Regions from separate parts of the Homo sapiens genome. Here region 2 is linked to region 1. The links come from fine-mapping of genetic effects on gene expression. A gene starts in region 1. The other region holds a variant in brackets. All regions are shown on one strand. Distances are from middle to middle.

Region 1 (11,083 bases):
AGCAACCATTTAAATATCTAACTATACACATTCAAGTTTTTACAACTTCATGCCTTATGAGGAATTTTGATTTCAGAAGTATCATTCCACAGACTCAGCATCATATATTTATACATATTTCATACAGTATAGTATTAGAAACTGTAAATGGCACAGAATAATCATAATTATCACAAAATTTTATCAATTTCCAGTGATCTTAAAAAGACAAATTATAACCGCCTTTGCTCAGCTAAGATATCCAGTTATGGTTACAACTTTCGAAAATCCTAAAGTTATGTGAAAAAAATTAGTCAAAGAAAATCTGTAAATCTGATACTTTCCAATATTTTAAATATGCACAGCTAAAGAGAAAATAAAGGGGTTGATCTGGCACATGAATAATTAAGTCAATGAATTTTACAACCCTGAGCCACTTTGGCAACTACTTTAGGTTTCACATAATTTTCACAGTCTTAGTACCACCATTTTCATTCAGATAAAAGAAATGACCTTTTGAAATCATGGGCATCAAATTTGGTGCTTATGGACAAGAATCACAACTAGAAGCTAGAGACAAAATGGATCACAGCAAGCACAGTTTCCCTCAAAGAATAAGGAACGCTATAGAATATACAACAGCGATAGTTTAGAAACCTTGGGAAGCTCACATTTCTTTAGTTATTTTGTTTTACTAAACAATTTGAAGTAAGCATTATATTCATGTTTAAAAACAAAGCAAGGAAAAATAAAAAATGAAACAAAAATGCAGCATGGAACATTTTAGGAGTCACAGAAGGTTCTCTTCTTCCCTTTGTTTTGGGCACATTGTCTCACCTGTTTTCACTTTGTTACAAAAGGAAACAAAACCAAATCTCTGCTCAGAGTGGTCATAGTGAGAACACTGAGATTTGCATATGTTTTTCTACTTTCCCATCCATCTAGACCCTGAAATCTAAATAAATATTTCAGTTAAAACTTTTTTTCCATTTGCATGAAGTCTGGGTCACTATATCTCCTACCCTGAATGGGGGAAGATGGGACAGCTATATCTCATACTGAAGCGGTGGCAGCTAAAACCTGGCAACTGCTGCCAGTGTCCCCAATGTGTCTTGCTTATTATTTTTTAAAATGTGACAAAGACAAAAGCTACAGCTGGAAACTCACACAATTTAGAAATATGTTGAAAACTTTTATTATAGTCCTTAGGATTTCCAAGTAAATGCTCCCAAATCAAGTATTACAAAGCTGCTAATTAATTAGCAACTGAAAATTAGCCATTCAAATTATATTGGAAATATTTGCTGAATTGTTTTTATGAAAGCTTCCTCTTGGATTCTGTAAGGATCAGAGTATCTGAATCCACAAACCAGCTAGTTTCAAGAAAGAATTCTTTTGACTAAAACTTACCTTAAAACCAATTTTCCCAACTCTTTTCCTTTTCCCAAATAGTCCAACGTTTTGAGGAGAAATATATGAGGCAGGTTGTTTTATACGGCACTGTACCCTTTAGGAAACCTAACATTTCAGTGAACTGGGAAACTTCACAACATAAACTCTATGTATTTATAGATATTATGACTGCTGTATAATATATACTGTGGGGAAAAAAAAAAAGAAGAAAGAAAAGACTAGCCTGGGCAACATGGCGAAACCCCATCTCTACAAAAAATACAAAAATTAGCTGGGTATGGTGGTGCCTGCCTGTGGTTCCTGCTACATGGGAGGCTGAGGTGGGAGGACTACCTGGGCCCGGGAGGTCAAGGCTGCAGTGAGTCGAGACTTTGCCACTGCACTCCAGCCTGTGCGACGGGGTGAGACCCTGTCTCAAAAAAAAAAAAGAAAAAAGAAAAGTTTTATCAAAGGATAAAACCGAAATGCTATAGTATATAGTGTGACCATAATTTCAGAAGAAGAGAATTAGCATAATTTAAAAGGATAGCTAGCATACTATACGTTTTAATAATTCCAGTATTTTTGTTACTTGGGCTTAATTTAACTTATTTTCCTCTTTTTGATTTTTGTATTTTTAAGAGGGCACTTTTAATTTTCAAGTTGTGTTTGAAACTATAGAGTATGCTAATACAACTTAATATAAATATAAATAATATATAAGCTCTCTCTCTGCATATATACACATATAAACAGACCCAAGCATTAGACCACTGATGTTGTACTTTCAGGATTCACACGAATAAGTCTAGATGCATTCCTCAGATCTTGGAGTTGCTTGGCAGGTTTCCCCACACCTTCTTCAAACCTTTTCTCCACCACAGGGAGGACTGTTTCATATAAAAAGGATGCATTCTGTCTGATAAAAGCTTTCTTCTCTGGATCCTGCTCACATCGAAGACTATAATCCACATGCTGAACAGCAACCAAAATGATTTCCACCAGGCTCTCCAAAAGTACCATGTGCAGCTCTGGGAAATACAGCTTCAGGGCCTCTTCCAAGAAGCCCATGGTCTGTTTGGTGAAAGCAACCACTGTGTAACTTAGGTTCACCCAGCAGTCATCCCCTGTGTACTGCTCAAAGTTACTTACCCCACAACTTTTCATCTCTTCTTTGAGCTTACCCAGGGCTTCTGGCGTCATCAAGTTCATCCTCCTCCACATCTCTTCAGAGTTGCGATGTTTAGTGGCTTCAATGATGATTTCTTTGTAACTGTGCAAGGCCCCTTGGATGTCTTTCACCAGAAGGGCATGGATGATGAAGGTGAGATCCAGTCCGATATCACCCAGTTGCTGGCAATGCTCCTTAGCCACTTTTACACACTCAGCTGCTGTAGAGAGGCTCTCCTTACTATCAAACACCTGCTTGCTAAAAGCATCCACGAACATGCCCATGGCTGATCTTGCCCAGACCACAAAGGCAGAGTAGCAGCCGCTGTCAGTGCCTGCAAAATCGATCTCAAATTCTCTTGCAGTCTCGAGAAGGCTGGTAAAGAAGACATGGCACAGCTTATGAATATAGAGTAAAGTGGCACCTTCGATGCGAAGCTGACGAATTGCAGTATGAACAGCGGCTGCCCTGTTTCTCAAAAATAGCTCACAGGCCTTCGTGCACTGGCCCAGCCGGATCAGTTGCGAAACTGCTCTGCGAGTAGCCTTCGGACCACCTCTCAGGGAACGATCTGGGGAGAGTTCGAAAACTAGCACCTCAGTGAGCTGTCGAACTCGCTCCTCCACTTTGGCCCTTAGTTCTTTTACAGGAGGTGGGCTAGGTTTATCTTCCAGGTAATGGTTCAATTTATCCAGCAGGTCAACCGCCCCTTCAAAGTCTCTCTGCGCAATGCAGACATCCAGGTCTTCAGGTAACTCCTGGATCCATTCCATGGAGAGGTCCACCTTCTCTTCCTCTACCTCAGGAACAGCTGGTTCTTCTTCTTCGTCATCCTCAAATGGGTTAGTGGCCTTGGAAGTCACTTGGGGTGGCCCTCGAGGGGCCGCTGCCTCCTCCTGCTCCCTTCGCCTTTTCTCACTGAGGGCCCTCTTGGTGTCCTCCAGCACTTCCAGCCACTCTCGTTTGATTTTAGCATTTTCGGCCTGGAAAATACGGCTCTCGGGGAACATAAGCAGCTTGAACATGTCCTTCATGGGCGGGTTGTCCTTGACATTGACTACGGCCAAACCATCTAGGGAATAGAGAGCGTTGTAGCGATACATCCCACGCCGCTGAGGCAGCCAGGTAGCCACCAACAAGCAATCGTTCATGAGAAAGCCGTGCACCCGCTGCAGTTGGGCCATGTGGTCCGCATCGTATTCCACTAGGTCCCCATTGTACACCAAGTACTGTCCCGGCGTCTCCAGCAGATGCCTGCAGCCTTCCACCTTCTCAAGCAGGGTGGTGAGAGTGCGCTGCTTTCCTTCCTCGCCTGGACCGGAGCCGTCGCGGGAGGCACCCCCGGGGGTGGAGAAAAAGCCGGCCTGGCCTCGGAGGTGGTCTCGGCCCCCCGCCCCACCGACTCCCTCCTCCCCTCCAGAGGCGGCGGCGGCTCCGGCGGCAGCAGCGGCAGGCAGCAACGTAAGCGGGATGCTCTCCAGGCTGCTTTTCTGCTCGGTCAGCAAATGGCTGAGCTGGTACATCTCGCTCTCCAGGTAGGAGATCTCGCGGGCCGTCTCTATGAACTGCCGGTAGTTCTGGTAGACGTTGCGCTTCAGGTTCTGCGCCGTCTCCTCCGCCAGCGCCTGGATGCGCTGCCGGTGCTCCTGGAGGTCCCGGTCCCCATCCGACTGCTGCGAGAGCTGCTTCACGTACAGCCGCGCCTCAAAACCCCCTGACTCCAGCTGCCGACGCAGGCGGCTCGCCCCACTGTCCGACATCGCCATCGCCATTTCTCTCCGGGTCTCACGCACTCACTGTCACTATCGGCGCCGCAGCCGCCGCGGCTGTCTAGACCCACCCAAGGCCAACCGAGCTCCTGGGCTGAGGAAGCAGGAATGGGAACGAGACGAGTACGCCTGCGCCGGGTCTGAGCGTCAGACACTGCGCCTGCGCAAGTGGGCCGAGCGCAGACATTGCGCCTGCGCAGCAATGCCATCGGTTAAAGCGCATGCGCAAGATGAGCTATTGCGGAAGTGAGGGGAGGGAGAGGCCGAGAGAAATTTCGGTACTGCGCATGAACCGAGCGTGACGTTGAGGTTTGAAATAACCGGCAAAGAGTAAAGGCTGAAACTAGCTTCCTGAAAGCTTCGTAGGGCCCGAGCCCTGTGAGCCCAGGTTCTGCGCCCACTAGGAGGTGTCATGCTGACTGCTTTTTTTAAAGCCCTAGAATCTTGGCTTCGGCGTTTGGGGTAAGCTCCGTTCTCGTTCTCAAGCGCGTTTCCGCGAACTCTCGCGGGATTGACGGGCCGTCTCGAGAGCCGGCATCTCCTAGGAGCTAGTCCTGGTCCTCGGCTAGGCGGCTTGGGGTCGCGGCGTAACTGGGGAGCCAGCCTGACGCCGGCGGACCCCGCCTGTGATCCTGGCAACGATGGATGATGACTTGATGTTGGCACTGCGGCTTCAGGAGGAGTGGAACTTGCAGGAGGCGGAGCGCGATCATGCCCAGGAGTCCCTGTCGCTAGTGGACGCGTCGTGGGAGTTGGTGGACCCCACACCGGACTTGCAGGCACTGTTTGTTCAGTTTAACGACCAATTCTTCTGGGGCCAGCTGGAGGCCGTCGAGGTGAAGTGGAGCGTGCGAATGACCCTGTGAGTTCCGAGCCCCGCTGGGGAAAGAGGCGGGACTGGCAGCTTTCCTGCAGCCCCCGGCCCTGGTTTTCTCTCCTTTCTCTAGTCCGACGGTCCCAGGGGGCGTTAAATGAGGGGAGTCTGGTTTTGGACCTGGCAATTCCTGCCTCGGCGTGTTTCTGTCTTCCTTACCTTTTCTCCCACTCGAACAATAAGAAAGCTGTGTAGACCACACCGCCACGGTTGGACTCAGGGCCGTAACAAAAAAGAGATTTTTATTTGAATCTCACTTCACTTGAAAATAACAAGTTCCTGATTTGCCTTATGATAGTGCTGTAGGACCCAGAAGGGAGAAGCAACCAAATCTGCACCTAAGAAAGTGCTGAGGACGCAGAGTAACTGCCAAAGGATGTGTGTTCTCCTCCTCTATTCCCGTTAGGAAACCCACTTTAGTTAGCTCGTGTGTTGCATTGGGGATCTTCAGTGATGCTTTTAAAACGATTCTTTTTCTACACGCTAAATTTCAGAAATCCCTATTTGAAATAATAATCTACTCCTGCACGTGAACAGGGTTAAGTTTAAGATACAGTTGTATCCCAGCATGCTTGTTTTTGAGTTGATAGAAAACAACCTACTGTCAAACAAATTAAGATATGATATTAAATTGTGTTTAAAGTACCAATTTCCTTTATACAGGCGTCTGTTATGATTTTGGAGATATGCTACTGGAGATATCTGCTTGTTAATAACACCGAACTGTAACTTGTCGGAAGGAGACTGGGAGTAGCAGAATAGGATTGCCTTTGAGCTGTTGCAGCCTAGCTAGGGCAAGGGGAGCTGCAGTTGGGCCATGTGGTCCGCATCGTATTCCACTAGGTCCCCGTTGTACACCAGGTACGGTCCTGGCGTCTCTAGCAGGTGCCTGCAGCCTTCCACCTTCTCAAGCAGGGTGGTGAGAGCACGCTGCTTTCCTTCCTTGCCCGGCGGGGATCGGAGCCATCGCGGGAGGCGCCCGCGGGGGTTGTAACTAATTAATTAGGTGAAATGCAAGTATCTGCTAACCAAGGGGGGTATACTTTCATGAAAGCCATCTGCCAACTGAGTTAGTGTGAACTGCCCAAGAATGTGTAAGGACTTGGGCATATTTGGCCAATGTAACACATTTTTATGGTGATTGTTTTCTAGGTGTGCTGGGATATGCAGCTATGAAGGGAAGGGTGGAATGTGTTCCATCCGTCTCAGCGAACCCCTTTTGAAGTTGAGGCCAAGAAAGGATCTTGTAGAGGTATTTTTCGTGTAAACTTGCTTCCTAGCGCAGTAATTTACAAATACTTGTCAATGATTTAGACTGCTGTGAATTCGCCTGTATGTATCGTTAAAAAAAGTCACTTTGCCCTCAGTGAAAGCTTGAATTATGGGGCAAACAATAATGAACACCTTATGTTTTTTATAGTGCTTCATAGTAAAAAAAAAAAAAACAAAAAAAAGGCTTCTAGGGGCCGGGCACGCTGGCTCACGCCTGTAATCCCGACACTTTGGGAGGCCGAGGCGGGCGGATCACGAGGTCAGAAGATCAAAAACATCCTAGCCAACACGGTGAAACCCCGTCTCTACAAAAAAAAAAATACAGAAAATTAGCCGGGCGTGGTGGCCGGCGCCTGTAGTCCCAGCTACTCGGGAGGCTGAGGCAGGAGAATGGCATGAACTGAGGAGGCGGAGCTTGCAATGAGCCGAGATCGCGCCACTGCACTCCAGCCTGGGTGACAGAGCAAGACTCTGTCTCAAAAAAATAAAAGCCTTCTAGGTATATTATCTGTTTTGATTTTACAACAGCCCTGTTTATGTTCATGTGTTGCTGTTTTCATTTTTATGAGTAAAGAAATTAAGGTTCAGAGAGGTTAAGTAACTGGCTTAAGTTACTTATTTAGAAACAGAGAAAACAGGATCCACATGTTCCTGTTGAGAAACACAAATTTTGATTCTCCTCAGTTGGGCTGCAACACTGCTGTGCTCTCAGGACACCTAGCTGAGCTGGCAGCACAAACCAGTGTGAGGGCACGCTTCACATTTAGAGCTGGTACTTACTTCTGCTAGCAGAATGGAGCAGTGGGAGCTGAGGCAGGAGGATCTCTTGAACCCGGGAGGCGGAGGTTGCAGTGAGCCGAGACCGTACCATTGCATTCCAGCCTGGGCAACAAGAGCGAAACTCTGTCTCAAAAAAAAAAAGAAAGAATTATCTGTACAAAAGAGCACAGTGGTAGTTTCTGAGCATGGGGTGGGAAGCATGTTAAAACATGCTTGGAGATGAGAGATGCTGTTTTTAAGGATAATAAAAGGCAATGGATTACATAACAGTGTGAATATACTCAACACTGAACTGTACACATAAAAATGGGTAAGTTGGGGAATTTTGTTAATTTTTTTTACCACAGTTTGTTTAAAAAGTAGCTACTAAATGTAAAGTGGTACAGTAGAAATACTTGATTAATGAAAAAGAACAGAGCTCAGATGATAAAGAGAAAGGTAGGTGTAAACAAAATATCAGTTAAATGTAAGTGGACTAAACACTCCATTAAATACATGGAATGGCATGCTAGATTAAAAGAGACATGCTTACAGTAAAGACACACTTATTTTAAGTTTAAAAGGATGAGGAAAAGTAATCATCCAAACACTTAAAAGCAGAAAACTATTGTGGCTATAAGGTTGAGTACTCATTATCCAAAGTGGGACCAGAAGTGTTTCAGATTTTTTTTTTTTTTACTTTGGAATATTTGCATTATACTTACTGGTTGAGCTTCCCTAATCCAAAAGTCCCAAATCTGAAATGGCTTTAGTGAGCATTTCCTTAGAACTTAACCTTTAATCATCTTGTAAGTGCTCAAAAAGTTTTAGATTTTGGAGCATTTCAGATTTTGGATTGTCAAATTAGGGATGTTCAACCAGTATTAGTATCAGACTAAAGACTTCAAGGGAAGAAGTTTTACTAGAGGAAAAGTGGGATATTTTATAATAATAAAATAATCTATTAAGCAACAATACATAATCTCTCCAAAAGTAATAACATAACTTTAAATTTTATGAGGCATAAATTAGCAGAAGCAAAAAGAATATACAATCAGGCTGGGTGCGGTGGCTCACGCCCATAATCCCAGCACTTTGGGAAGCTGAGACAGGCGGATCACTTGAGGCCAGGAGTTTGAGACCAGCCTGACCAACATGGTGAAACCCCGTCTCTACTAAAAATACAAAAATTAGCTGCGTGTGGTGACACAGCCTGTAGTACCAGCTACTCAGGAGGCTGACGCACAAGAATCGCATGAACTCGGGAGGTGGAGGTTACAGTGAGCCGAGATCACACCACAGCACTACAGCCTGGGGTGACAGAGCAAGACCCTGTCTCACTACAGCCTCAACCTCCCAGGCCCAAGCAATCCTCCCGCCTCAGCCTCCCAAAGTGCTGGGATTACAGGTGTCAGCCAAGACACCCAGACTCATACTTGAAGAATGTTAACACAACCTTCTTAGTAACCCAATGAATAAGCGGAAAAAAATAATACACATTTTAAAAAGTTGAACAGCATGATTAACCAAATCAGCCTTAGAAGGAGCCCTAACTGGAAGAGTTGCTTAATGAATATGTATTGGGTAAATGATTACATAAACACATGAGAAAAAAATGTTTTTAAGTAGTGGGTGAGAAGAGAATGGGGAATGTATAATAGTATCAAGTGAGCATTTCCTGTTGGCAGAAAGTTACAAAATGACATTTTCGTCAATGACAGGCCCCATATATAACAGTGGTCCCATAAGATTATAAGACCATATTTTTATTTATTTATTTATTTTTATTTTTTGTTTTTTGAGATGGAGTTTTGCTCTTGTTGCCCAGGCTGGAGTGCAATGATATGATCTCGGCTCACTGCAGCCTCCGCCTCCCTGGTTCAAGGGATCCTCCTACCTCAGCCTCCCAAGTAGCTGCGATTAAAGGTGTGCGCCACCACGCCTGGCTGATTTTTGTATTTTTAGTAGAGGCGGGGTTTCACCATGTTGGCTGGTCTCAAACTCCTGACCCCAGGTGATCCTTCTGCCTCAGCCTCCCAAAGTGAATGGGATTACAGGTATGAGCCACCATGCCCGGCCAGGACTATATTTATTTATTTTTTTTTTGAGATGGAGTCTCGCTCTGTTGCCCAGGCTGGAGTACAGTGGCGCATCTCCACTCACTGCAAGCTCCGCCTCCCGGGTTCAGGCCATTCTCCTGCGTCAGCCTCCCACATAGCTGGGACTACAGGCACCCGCCACCATGCCAGGCCAATTTTTTGTATTTTTTTTACTAGAGACGGGGTTTCATCATGTTAGCCAGGATGGTCTCAATCTCCTGACCTCGTGATCCGCCCGACTCAGCCTCCCAAAGTGCTGGGATTACAGGCGTGAGCCACCACACCTGGCCAAGACTATATTTTTATTGTACCTTTTTTCTTCTTTATATTTAGTTGCACAAATACTTACCATTATGTTGCACTTGCCTACAGCATTCAGTACAGTAACATCCTGTGCAGGTTCGTTGCCTAGGAGCGGCAGGCTATACTCTATAGCCTAGGTATATATACTCTATAGCCTAGGTATATACACTCTATAGCCTAGGTATATATACTCTATAGCCTAGGTATATATACCCTATAGCCTAGGTATATATACTCTATAGCCTAGGTATATATACTCTATAGCCTAGGTGTGTGTATATATATATATATATTACATAGGCTATACCATTTAGGTTTGTGTAAGTACACTCTTAAGATGTTTGCACAATGACAAAATTGCCTAACAATGGATTTTTCAGAACATATCCCTGCCAAGTGAGGCACAACTGTAGTTACCTAAATCATAGAGAAGGGGGTTCAGAAAAGGAACAGACTTTATCTGGTTGAGGAGGTCAAGAAAAGCTTTATAACTGTACATTTTGTTACTACCATCACCACTCCTGCTGCTCACTATTGAGCACCTATTGTGTGTCAGACTTTGGACTAAACGTCGTCTTTACCACAGCCATGCAAAATGAGGATATCCCATTTTAGGGATGAGGAGCCACTTGGAGCCTGTCCCAGGTCTCATGCTGTGATTGTGGGTTTAGGTTCCAGTTTCCCTGACTCTAAGGCTCTTGTTCTGTCCCCTTTACCATTCAACTCATCACTCCTGCGATTAAAACATGGAGAGGTGAGCATTAAAGGACGAATTGTACTTTTGACAAGCAGAGATAGGACAGGAGGCTACTCTTGGCAGAAAGCATGGGAATAATGTGAACAAAAGTGAGTTCAGACAACTGGGGGCATATTTAGGACTAGAGGTAGTTCATTTTAACCCGATAGAACAGTCATGGAAAACAGAGGTATTTTGGGACTGTGTTGTGTATAGATCCTTGAATTAAGACTAAATATGGAAAATGATAGATATTTAAAAAGTTCAGTACCATTTTCAAGATGTTTTTTAATGTTTAATTAAATTGAACCAAAAATCAGGAACCTAAATTTGTTTCTCCTTTATGAGAATAGATCTTTATCATTGCTCTAATTTAGAACATTGAGAAACTTTTGCAGTACCTTTCTTGAATTTGAGTCTTCTTCGTTGAGCGGCATTTACTTGAAAAATAAAGTTCTGGCTGGGTACAGTGGCTCATGCACGTAATCAGATAGATGGATTGCTTGAGCCCAGGAGTTGACCTGTCTGGGTAAGATGGTGAGACCTTGTCTCTACAAAAAATTGAAAAAAAATTAGCCAGGTGTGGTGACATGCGCCTGTAATCCCAGCTGCTCAGGAGGATGAGATAGAGGGATCCCTTGATGCCAGGAATTTGAGGCTGCAGTGAAATATAATCATGCCACTGCACTCCAGTCTGGGTGAAAAAGTGAGACCCCATCTCTGAGAAAT
Region 2 (11,083 bases), 66 kb before region 1:
AGAGTCTTTTTCCATCCCCATTTGTCTAAGTAACAGAACTGTAATTTGTTGCTCTGTGCTCTTCCTTTTAGATACATTCCTCAGAAACAGTCTGAGGACATGCATGCCTTTGTCACTGAAGTTGCCTACAAAATGGAGCTTCTGCAAATTGAAAACATGGTTTTGAGCCCCTGGACCCTAATAGTTGCTGTTCTGCTTCAGAACCGGCCATCCATGGACTTTGATGCTCTGGTGGAAAAGACTTTATGGCTAAAAGGCTTAACCCAGGCATTTGGAGGGTTTCTCATTTGGCCTGGTATGTAGGTAGGACATATGTGTTGAGAATGCTTGCTTAATTTGGAAGAGTTAAAACCTGGACCTGAAAAATCTATAGAGGACTTGAGCAAAGGATTGCTCAGAAAGAGAAAGGACAGGCCGGGCGCGGTGGTTCACACCTGTAATCCCAGCACTTTGGGAGGCCAAGGCAGGTGGATCACGAGGTCAGGAGATTGAGACCATCCTGGCTAACGCGGTGAAACCCCGTCTCTACTAAAAAATAGAAAAAATTAACCAGGCGTGGTGGTAGGCGCCTGTAGTCCCAGCTACTCGGGAGGCTGAGGCAGGAGAATGGCATGAACCCAGGAGGCGGAGCTTGCAGTGAGCCGAGATTGTGCCACTGCACTCCAGCTAGGCAACAGAGCGAGACTCTGTCTCAAAAAAGAAAGAAAAAGAGAAAGGACACCAAATCTGTTTTTATCACTATAGGACACAGTGAACACAGCACGTTGATTATTTGAGAATAATTGTTTACATGTCATTTCCCACTACGAGACTCTGAATATCTTGAGGACTAGAATACCATTTCCTTGGCACCTAGTACGGTGGAAAATAAAGTCATGAATCCTAGCCAGGCATGGTGGTACACACCTATAATCCCAGCTACTTGGGAGGCTGAGGTGGGAGGATCACTTGAGCCCAGGAGTTCGAGACCAGCCTCAGTAACATAGTGAGACCCCATCTCCAAAAAAAAAAAAAAAAGGCCGGGCGTGGTGGCTCACACCTGTAATCCCAGCACTTTGGGAGGCTGAGGCGGGCGGATCACGAGGTCAGCAGTTCCAGACCAGCCTGACCAACATGGTGAAACTCCGTCTCTACTAAAAACACAAAAATTAGCCGGGCATGGTGGCGTGCACCTGTAATCCCAGCTACTCGGGAGGCTGAGGCAGGAAAATTGCTTGAACCTGGGAGGCAGAGATTGCAGTGAGCCAAGATTGCGCCACTGCACTCCAGCCTGGGTGATAGAGCGAGATTCCGTCTCAAAAAAAAAAAAAAATTGTACAGGCTACAGTTGGAAATGCGTTTTTTTTTAAAGACCAGATAATTATTTGAAGTCAAGTACCTACTGTTCTTTGATCAACCCAATACTGAATACCTCCTCTGTGCTGGGTACTACCAGGGATATGAAGATGAACAAGATGCCATCCCCATCCTGGACGTTCCCCTGGGTTGCAGAGGGCAGGGTGGGTGGGTAATGTGTAAACAAGTTGTGAGGGTTCAGTGAACAGAGACAAGGAGCAACATGCATGCTGCAGAGGGTTCCTGAGAGTGCTGCAGAGGAAAGGGACCATACTCAGGAAGACTTCACAGAAGCGACTTTTGAACCCTTCAGGAAGACCAGGAGAGGATCCTCGCCAAGGCAGGGATGAGGAATGCAAGATGGGAGGCTTGGGCCCCAGAGATTCATCAGTGATATTAAAGTGTTGGCCCAGATGGGGTGGTGGGTAGATGGAAAATAAAGATGGACCTCCCCGCCTCCTCCCCACCATCCACCATCAGAAGACTGGAGGTATAGAAACAAGTTAGGAGGCTGCTCTGTCCCAATGAGAAATGCAGGATGCCTGAGATGCCTGAGCCGCAGCAGTGGAGGCACTCAGGGCACAGCCAAGAGATGAGGAGGATTTACTGACAAAAATGCCAGTCACCAAGAGAGAGACAAATCAGACACCTGTTCTCAGTGCTGTGATGGGCTGGGTCTGGTAGGAGGCAAAGGATGTGTTAATTATGATACAAGTAGCAAGTGTTGGATGTCATGAGAAATAGCTAAAAGGGCTCAAACCCATCATTGTTTGGCCCAGGAACATATGAAAACATAGGTACTTGTTTTTCTAAAGTGTTTTGCTTTTTCAGGATGGGATAAATGCCATAACTAATCCATAACTAAGAGTATCTGTTCAGTGTCACTACAGTTCTGTTCCTTTTTTCTTTTTTTATGCAGATTACCCCACATTCCTAAGCATGTTCATATCTCAAGCTTTTTATGATCATTTCACATAAAATATTATTCAATTGAGCAAGCTGAGACAAGGCAAGTTGTTCAAGAATGAATGTGATCAAGTCCAGGAGGAAGCCATACCTCTCACTTGTCCCTGCCTTGAAGCAGTAGCAGAACTTGCCACCCAACTTGAGCAGTGTGCCACTGCCAGCCAGCTCTTTGGCTCAGGTTAACTGCAGAATAATTTTCCGTGCTGAGAATATTTGTTAAATATCACCATCTCTTCATTATGCTTCTGTAATTCTACCTGCCTGGCAGCTGTCTGCAGGCCAATATGTCAGGTGATAAGCTACCAACTGCCATGGAGCTGCCCCTTTAGTTATCTTTGATTTGGGGAAAACTGCAAAGTGATATTTTTACCATTTTAGTATGGGTCTAAGCAAGGGGTGTGTGTGCATGTGTGTGTGTGTTGTATGTTTTAATGTATTCATACACTAATCATGGGCCTTTTTCTTAGTATTCTTACATTCCCGTGCATGTGACTTTCCAGTTATGTAACTTGCTGTTAGAAAACTTTAGATTCCCTTGGTTCCTGAAGTACACAGAAGTGGTGTTCATTTTCAGAGTAGAAACTGATGTGCCTTTCAGAATGGCTGACAAATTTTGGGGGTAAGAAAGTATGTTACATGTCCTTAGAGAGAGAGAAAGAATTGATTTATGAAATAGTACTTTTAAATTTTTCTTCAGATTTGGTATCATTACCGTAATTGGTAGACAGTAAAACCTGTCACTTGAAAATGAGCATCTGTCACGTTACCATTAATAACGTTAACGTACGCTAGGCCTAAGACTCCCTGCAGTGACCCATCTTGTTTGAATGAATTGTCTTTGTGTGTAGATAATAAACCTGCTGAAGAAGTTGTCCCGGCCAGCATTCTTCTGCATTCCAACATTGCCAGCCTTGTCAAAGACCAGGTGATTCTGAAAGTGGACTCCGGAGACTCGGAAGTGGTCGATGGGCTTATGCTCCAGCACATCACTCTCCTCATGTGCTCAGCTTATAGGAACCAGCTGCTCAACATTTTTGTGCGCCCATCCTTAGTAGCAGTAGCATTGCAGATGACACCAGGGTTCAGGAAAGGTAATTTTCAGGAATGCAATCTTGACTTTTAGAAGAGGTCTGGCCATTCCATTCCATTTAGGGAGCCACATTTGAAGCCTTGTAATGTTCAGCCTCACGCCGGTGAAGAGCAGGCCTATCACTGAGAAAAAGTTAGCTTTGTTCCCCAAATACTTGTTCATCTGCTTCGAATTTTGGAATTGGGAGGACCTGGAAATAATCTAAACCTTTCCTTCTATAAATATGGAAAATGAGGCCTAGAAAGTTGCATAATTACTGAGAGAAGGATCTGGCATTTGAGTACAGTTCTCCACTTCCTGGTCTGCGGCACTGTTTTGGCTGTGCCAGCTCCCTGATCCAGCAAAGGCAGGTGGGCAGATGAGCAGTCAGCAGTCGATGAGTACTCCCGAGATGCATGGTCTTGTTCTAATTGTATCAGGAGTATAAAAATGAGTACAGTACACGTCATGTTCACAGGAGCCTGTAGTCAAGGCCAGGGGGTTCTGTCAAGGCCCTATGTTAGAATTACTAGGGGAGTGAGCCCCACCCCAAAGTTTCTTCAGTTGACCTGGGGTATGGGCCAGCCATTGGTGTTTGGTTTTGGTTTTGGTTTTGGCTTTTCAAAGCTCCACAGTGATTCTAAGGAAAAGTGCTACAGATATAATAAAGATACCAGGAAATATGAATATAGAGGGAAATTAAGAAATCAGTACCTTTCCTTCCCTACTAGGGAGCCATGGGGTAGGGAAAAATGAAGCGTCCTGGCCTCTAAGGACTGTGATGTCTCGCTGAGTAGAAGCCTGGTTGTAGGTTAGAGTCAATCATTTAAAAACTATGCTAGGGCCGGGCGCAGTGGCTCACGCCTGTAATCCCAGCACTTTGGTAGGCCGTGGTAGGAGGATCACGATGTCAGGAGTTCGAGTCCAGCCTGACCAACATGGTGAAACCCTGTCTCTATTAAAATACAAAAATTAGCTGGGCATGGCGGCGAGTGCCTGTAATCCCAGCTACTTGGGAGGCTGAGGCTGGAGAATCGCTTGACCCCAGGAGGCGGAGGTTGCAGTGAGCCAAGATTGCACCATTGCACTCCAGCCTGGGTGACAGAGCGAGACTCCATCTCAAAAAACAAAAAACAAACTATGCTAGACCGTAGTTTGCTCTGTGGGTAAGATTTGGGTTTAATTTAGCTTCCCTCAGGGGACTTAATTCTTGTCCCTGTTACATGAATAAAATATGCCTTTGAAATACATTTTGTGATAGTAAGGACTTCCTGGTACTCCCTTAAAGTTTAAAGGGCAATGTTGTAATTTTACATGATGCATTTATTTCCAGAGGATGTCTACAGTTGCTTTCGCTTCCTACGTG[A/G]TGTTTTTGCAGATGAGTTCATCTTCCTTCCAGGAAACACACTAAAGGTAAAGTGCTTACAACAAAGAGCAAGTATGTTTGCAGTGTGAGTTCTAGAAATGTTAGGGGTGAATTCACAGATGTGTCTCAGGCAGTGTGCCATCCCTTTCTTCAAGGCAAAGTGGGGCAGACTTCAAGAGAAACTGGGGCGCTCACAGTTCAGCAGACTCTAGTTTGATTCTTGATCAAGTTTAATTAATAACTTAGGGATTATATGGTGAGAGGAGAGTCATTCTTTGAACTATCAGTGTGGCCATTACAACTAAACTAACTTTATTTTAGTAAACGTTTAAAAATCAGCACACAGCCGGGCGCAGTGGCTCATGCCTGTAATCCCAGCACTTTGGGAGGCCGAGGCAGGCGGATCACGAGGTCAAGAGATCGAGACCATCCTGGCCAACATGGTGAAACCCCGTCTGTACTAAAAATACAAAAATTAGCTGGGCGTGGTGGCGCATGCCTGTAGTCCCAGCTACTCAGGAGGCTGAGGCTGAGGCAGGAGAATCACTTGAACCCGGGAGGTGGAGGTTGCTGTGAGCCAAGATTGTGCCACTGCACTCCAGCCTGGTGACAAGAGGAAGACTCCATCTCAAAAAAAAAGAAACCAAACACAACAAAATCAGCACACATTTTCCTGTTAGCAAGTTGTTAGAATGAGTCACCCAGGCAAGTGCCTTTTACTTTGAGAGTAGTGAGTGCTGGTCCTGCCTGGTCTAGACAGCTGAGGGGTCATCAGGCTCGCAGAGCTGGACTGCTGCTGGGTTGAAGTGGGAAGTGACAGTAGATGAGAGGCATGTTAGGTGTTTGTGTGCTTTAAGGATAAGAGGTTTGATTCTGTAGGGAGTGGAACAGGAGTGTTGGAAACTTTTTTTTTTTTTTTTTTTTTGAGGTGGAGTCTGGCTCTGTCGCTCAGGCTAGAGTGCAGTGGCGCAATCTCAGCTCACTGCAAGCTCTGCCTCCCGGGTTCACTCCATTCTCCTGCCTCAGCCTCCCAAGTAGCAGGGACTACAGGCGCCCACCACTACGCCCGGCTAATTTTTTATATTTTTAGTAGAGACGGGGTTTCACTGTGTTAGCCAGGATGGTCTCGATCTCCTGACTTCATGATCCGCCCGCCTCAGCCTCTCAAAGTGCTGGGATTACAGGCGTGAGCCACCGCGCCCAGCCAGAAATTTTTTAACCATAGCATAATTCTAAGTATTTTTAGGACTTGCTGTATGTATTTCCTATTTAAATTAAGGAGTGGTTCTGCAAAGTAAAAGAAAATCCATCACCCAGGTTGTGATTTGTAAGGCTCAGAAATGTTGTGTTTGAAAACATTTTGAATGTAGAGCAGATGCTTCTCTGGCTACTATCTCACAACCAGAATTGTTCTGGAGGTTGGGGAAATAGCTGGTATTCTGTTGTCTGAGGGCATGTGGCTGCATATATTCAGATAGGCAGTGTATCCATTAACCTAGATGAGGGGGTACATGTATTCAGATGGGCACTATACCCATTAACCTAGATGAACATTATGGCTTCCTCTTCCCTTCTAGGACTTTGAAGAAGGCTGTTACCTGCTTTGTAAAAGTGAAGCCATACAAGTGACTACGAAAGACATCCTAGTTACAGAGAAAGGAAATACTGTGTTAGAATTTTTAGTAGGACTCTTTAAACCTTTTGTGGAAAGCTATCAGGTATGTAAATTTGGCAAGTTCTCCTTCATGCCCCCCATATCAAATATAATAAGACATTCTCACCCTGTGCTTATTTCCAGTCTGAAGGGCAGGTATCTTCCCCAGGCAAATGGAAGAAGGAGAGAGAGTGACTAATACGATCAGTGATTTCACCTCACCAGTGAGACCTTGCTCCCCGCATTCAGGAGGAAGCTTGGTTCATTACAGACCCAAGAGGACAACAGCTTAGTGATGCCATGGTCACAGTATTCACAGGACCACAGTTACACCCACGCATCATCTGTCATACTGTGTCTCATGTCTTAATGAGGCCTTCATGTCAGTCAATATGTAACCTCGAGGTTTGATATATATCAGGCACTCAGTAAAGGCAAGACTTGAGTGATACATAAAGTCAGTTACAGATTACCAGATGTTTATGTTGGAAAGAAAAAGTTCAAGTGCAAGTTCTGAAAGCGTTTGTCAGAGCTCTTGGGAGTAGTTAGAGAGATGGGATGGTATGTTGCCCAGCAGGAATTGTGGCAGGACTCAACGGGAGAGAAAGAGTCTGAAACATAAACTGTAGGAAGGACTTCCACATGCTTGAGAGAAGAGGATGCTGTGACTCGGCTCTGTTCATATAATACATGCACTGGCTCTGGGCACCTGGACCCACTTCCTGGTGCTTGTGGTCCGTGAAATAACTCATTCAGCCTCCTTGCACAAAGTCTAGCACTTACTGAGCATTTGATAAATGCTAGTTCTACCCTTAATCACTGTTCTACAGTAGAAATCATCAAGTATTTTAGGGCATGGTACTTTCTTAGGTGTATTTAGAGAAAAAAAGCAAAGTTATTAAAATCTGACCCCTCTCTTCCCAAGTAGCATAAGAGATACGAAGCTGATGGTAATTAACTTGTACCCCTTGAAGTGAGAAATTATACTTTAATAAATGTCATTATTATTTTAAATCTTTTTCTAATTGTAAAATGTAAACTCAAAGGAGATGCCCTAAAAATTCTTTGGTTTTTCTGGGCTCATTCCTTGGAGGGTCTTTATGCTGCTCTCTTGTGATATATCCTTCTCTTAAGAGGGGCAATGTAAAGTTATTTACTATTCTGTTGAACTTGGCTATCCTTTTTCTCTTTCTGTTCCCCTCATCCTTCCTCTTAAAATCAGATAATTTGCAAGTACCTTTTGAGTGAAGAAGAGGACCACTTCAGTGAGGAACAGTACTTGGCTGCAGTCAGAAAATTCACAAGTCAGCTTCTCGATCAAGGTCAGTCACTGCTCTGTGGGTGCTGATTTCTTTTAGTTGAGAATAGAAACTGGTCAACTAACTCTTCCTCACCCCCAATTTTAGGTACCTCTCAATGTTATGATGTATTATCTTCTGATGTGCAGAAAAACGCCTTAGCAGCCTGTGTGAGGCTCGGAGTAGTGGAGAAGAAGAAGATGTAAGTACTGTACAAGATCCCATGAGTGCTCAAGGAACAAGGAAATGAATGACATTTGAGCTCAAAATCCAGAGAGACATAGAAATGGATGATCTAGGAAATGCTATATTCTACTTTCCTTATCCATCCTCTAATTAGTTAAGTCAGTGTGAGTTATCCTGAAAATTGTATGTGGTTATGAATAGAAATGCAACTGAAGCAAAGAAAGGAAGAAATAACTTTAGGCCAATATTTTTGCTTTGACTTAATGTTGAAATTTATAATTACAAGAAAGATTTTCGGGAGTGTAGTGGGCATATGAGTGTAGACACACATAAATACACACATAATACATATATAGATACATACCTGTATATGTATATATAAACATATAGATGTATGTTCTTCTAAGTGGTTGAATTTAACAGTGATAAAGCTTAATAGTAAACTCTGGCAGTCATGTCTCTTATGTGGTCAGAAGAATGAAGCAAGAAGCCAGGAGGTGGGACAGGAGCCTGAGGCCTTTCGACTACTTAGGCCCAGCCTTGAGGAAGGCAATTGAAAAGTAGTCTTACAATAGCTACGTCAGGAACAAAATATAAAAGTTGTCTTTTCCCCAGAGTTTATGTAATAATAAAGCTTATTATTTTCTCCTAGAAATAATAACTGTATATTTAATGTGAATGAACCTGCCACAACCAAATTAGAAGAAATGCTTGGTAAGTGCAGTTTAATAAAATACAAGTTTTCACATTTTGTTGATGAATTAAAATAAGAAAGTATACTGTGGCACCAAATACTTTATCAAAATGATCAGTAAGTAGTAGAGTTCTAACATAAAAGGGAATTACTTATGCAGTCTGGAATTTTCTCAAGGAAGCTAACGAGAAAGCACAAAGAAAATTAACAAAACACAGCAGGCATAAAAGAAGCAGTCTTACACAGTAGAAAGAGTCAGTCCCTAACATGACTGGTCTCAGCCAGAGGCCCAGACCCTTCACATCCTTGCCTCAGAGAGAGTACCTCATCTCCACTCTTTGTTTGATGCTCTCACTGTCTGTCTTGCATTGCTTCTTTCCCAAGTGAGAGATTAGTGTCAGTGTCTCTATCATGTAGACTTTCTGAACTCAGAATTAGGGCTGATAGCACATCCTTGGGAGAATAATCCAACCCTTACTCTTCTCTAGAGCCTATCAGCTATGAAGAAATAGTCTAGTCCAAAAAGAGTCCTTGAGTGTTGTCTTCCTTGACATAAGAGTCCTTGAGTGTTGACATAAACAGAGGTACAATCAGAGGGGGTCAAGAACACTTTTCCTAGCAATGATGCGGCCATTTTAGAAAGGAGGGTGTTAACATTTGGAAAAAATAATCTGCTGATTATATTGAATGGCGTGATGTCCTTGAGTGGATCGTCTTCCAAGTACTGTTTTTGTACCTAATCTTAATTCAGTACCTCGTCAAACCTGCATGGAAGAGCTTTAGATAAATGTCTGTTGGGATTTGCGGAAGACCAGAATGGGGCATACGGAAAAGGAGAATGGATGAAGAAAAGGGTAGAAGGGCAGTGGGGTAGTTGTTGCATATCGGGAAGGCGGAAGTACTAGACCTTGTAGAAAAAAATATGTAGGTCGAAATCCCAGTCTTCTATTTATATCGTGTCTGAAGAGGTGCATATACCTAAAACAACCACAAACACCTCGCCCTGTGAGGGTGACGGAATCAATTACTTAATCACGGAAAGCAGATGTGATGTGAGCGTGAACATACTGGACTGGAGTTCAGAAAACATGACGGGGTTCAACTCCTGGCCCTGGCCCTGTGGCTCTGGCCATGCTGTCACCTCTTGGAGCATCTACCGCTTCCCTTGTGGAGGGGGCTGGCGTCCCCATGGGTACTGGCCAGCCTGTGAAGCTCTGCACAAGTCTCCAGCTTCTCCCCTGGACAGTCGCCCAAGGAACAGCTGTATGAGGAAGGGCAAAATCAGCATCATTTCATGAGCTGCTTCTCTTTTTTCATCTTAGGTTGTAAGACACCAATAGGAAAACCAGCCACTGCAAAACTTTAATAATCAACAAATAGTTATGGAAAATTCGGTCACGTAATTACTCTCATCGAAGGACTCATTACAACAAACAGGGAAGTAAAGGAAGAGACACATCCTCTCATACTCCCTGAGACTCTGAGAACAGTGGACGCAGAGGGAAGAGATGATCATTGGAAGCAATCAGTTTACTCTTCCCCACCACAGTGGTTAAAAGGCGTTTGTATCTGACACTATGTGTGTGTTTTAAAATAAACTTTTGGAAACATGTTTGGAAAAGCAAAGCTCAGCTCATTTCACTAACACTTTTCAGCTTACTATATGTATTAAACTTTTATGTTGACTTTTGAATTAAAGTATGACAACACTGAAAGCTCTGGATATTAAAAGAAAATGAAAAGGGCATATCTACGTTACTTGTAGCTTGCTTTAATTAAAGTTGCCTCAAACAAGTACAAATTTGAAAGAGATATTTAATAAATTAGCTAGCTTACTTTAAATGTTGGCCACCCTAGGGCCTTAATTAACAAAAATGAATTAGTCAAGTATGTGCAACAAAAAGATGCTGTGTGATGCACCATAAATATGTGTAAGAATTCAAGAGAAGAGAAATTTAGAGTAAGTAGGTAACACCAGAAACCTTGGCAAGTAGCCACCTCTGGAAGTGACATGTAAGCTGAGAACTGGATTGAGCAGGAGCCAGCCCCTAGAGTGGCAGGGTTGGAGTGACGGAGGAAGGGACAGTGGAGTGCAGTGTGCCAGGAGAAAATAGTGATCAGGACGTCCTGGGGCAGGTTCCAGAGCTCCCAAAAGATCAACATGGCTGGAACAAGAGTCACAGATAGTGAAATTGAAGACAGAGGCAGGCGCATTAGTCAGTTTCAGGGTGCCATAACACAACAGCTTAAACACAGCTTAGGCAGCTTAAACACAGACCTATTTTCTCACATTTGTGGAGACTGAAAGTCCCAGATCAAGGTACTTGCATAGTAGGTTCATTTTGAGGCCCCTTTCTGGGCTTGTAGGTGGCTGCCATCTTACCGTGTGCTCAGAATGACCTCTGGGTGTACTCGGAGAAGAAGCAAGTTCTCTGATGCCTCTTCTTTTAAGGACACTGATCCCATCATGAGGCCCCCGTCGTGACTTCATCTAACATTAATCACCTCAAAGACT

Direction of the effects. Alleles are on the strand shown, and positions count from the first base shown. SD is a standard deviation of normalised expression in the study named.
For the expression in activated naive CD4 T cells of the gene that starts at base 4,862 in region 1, allele G in region 2 goes with a higher level than allele A (large effect, 0.84 SD a copy in Schmiedel 2018).

Evidence for each region. PIP is the estimated chance that this variant, and not a neighbour inherited with it, causes the effect.
Region 2: its variant is fine-mapped to the expression of SPRTN in activated naive CD4 T cells (Schmiedel 2018, PIP 0.95).

Annotation. Positions count from the first base shown.
Region 1 is chr1:231,333,432-231,344,514 of GRCh38, forward strand. SPRTN (SprT-like N-terminal domain) reads left to right here and starts at 4,862. Exons shown (of 5, transcript NM_032018.7): 1 at 4,862-5,173; 2 at 6,338-6,437. The coding sequence starts at 4,953. It overlaps EXOC8 (exocyst complex component 8), which reads right to left and starts at 4,421. Exons shown (of 1, transcript NM_175876.5): 1 at 1-4,421. The coding sequence starts at 4,314. The coding sequence ends at 2,137. RefSeq lists enhancers at 3,723-4,598, 4,146-4,195, 4,236-4,295, 4,599-5,473, 4,876-5,075 and 1 more and silencers at 3,856-4,025, 6,097-6,146.
Region 2 is chr1:231,267,609-231,278,691 of GRCh38, forward strand. It overlaps GNPAT (glyceronephosphate O-acyltransferase), which reads left to right. Exons shown (of 16, transcript NM_014236.4): 9 at 72-295; 10 at 3,150-3,392; 11 at 4,704-4,783; 12 at 6,314-6,454; 13 at 7,613-7,712; 14 at 7,797-7,890; 15 at 8,527-8,588; 16 at 9,891-10,365. The coding sequence ends at 9,934. Among named protein-coding and RNA genes, the nearest start is that of GNPAT, 32 kb to the left of the region's middle. The variant A/G (reference allele first, on the strand shown) is at 4,737.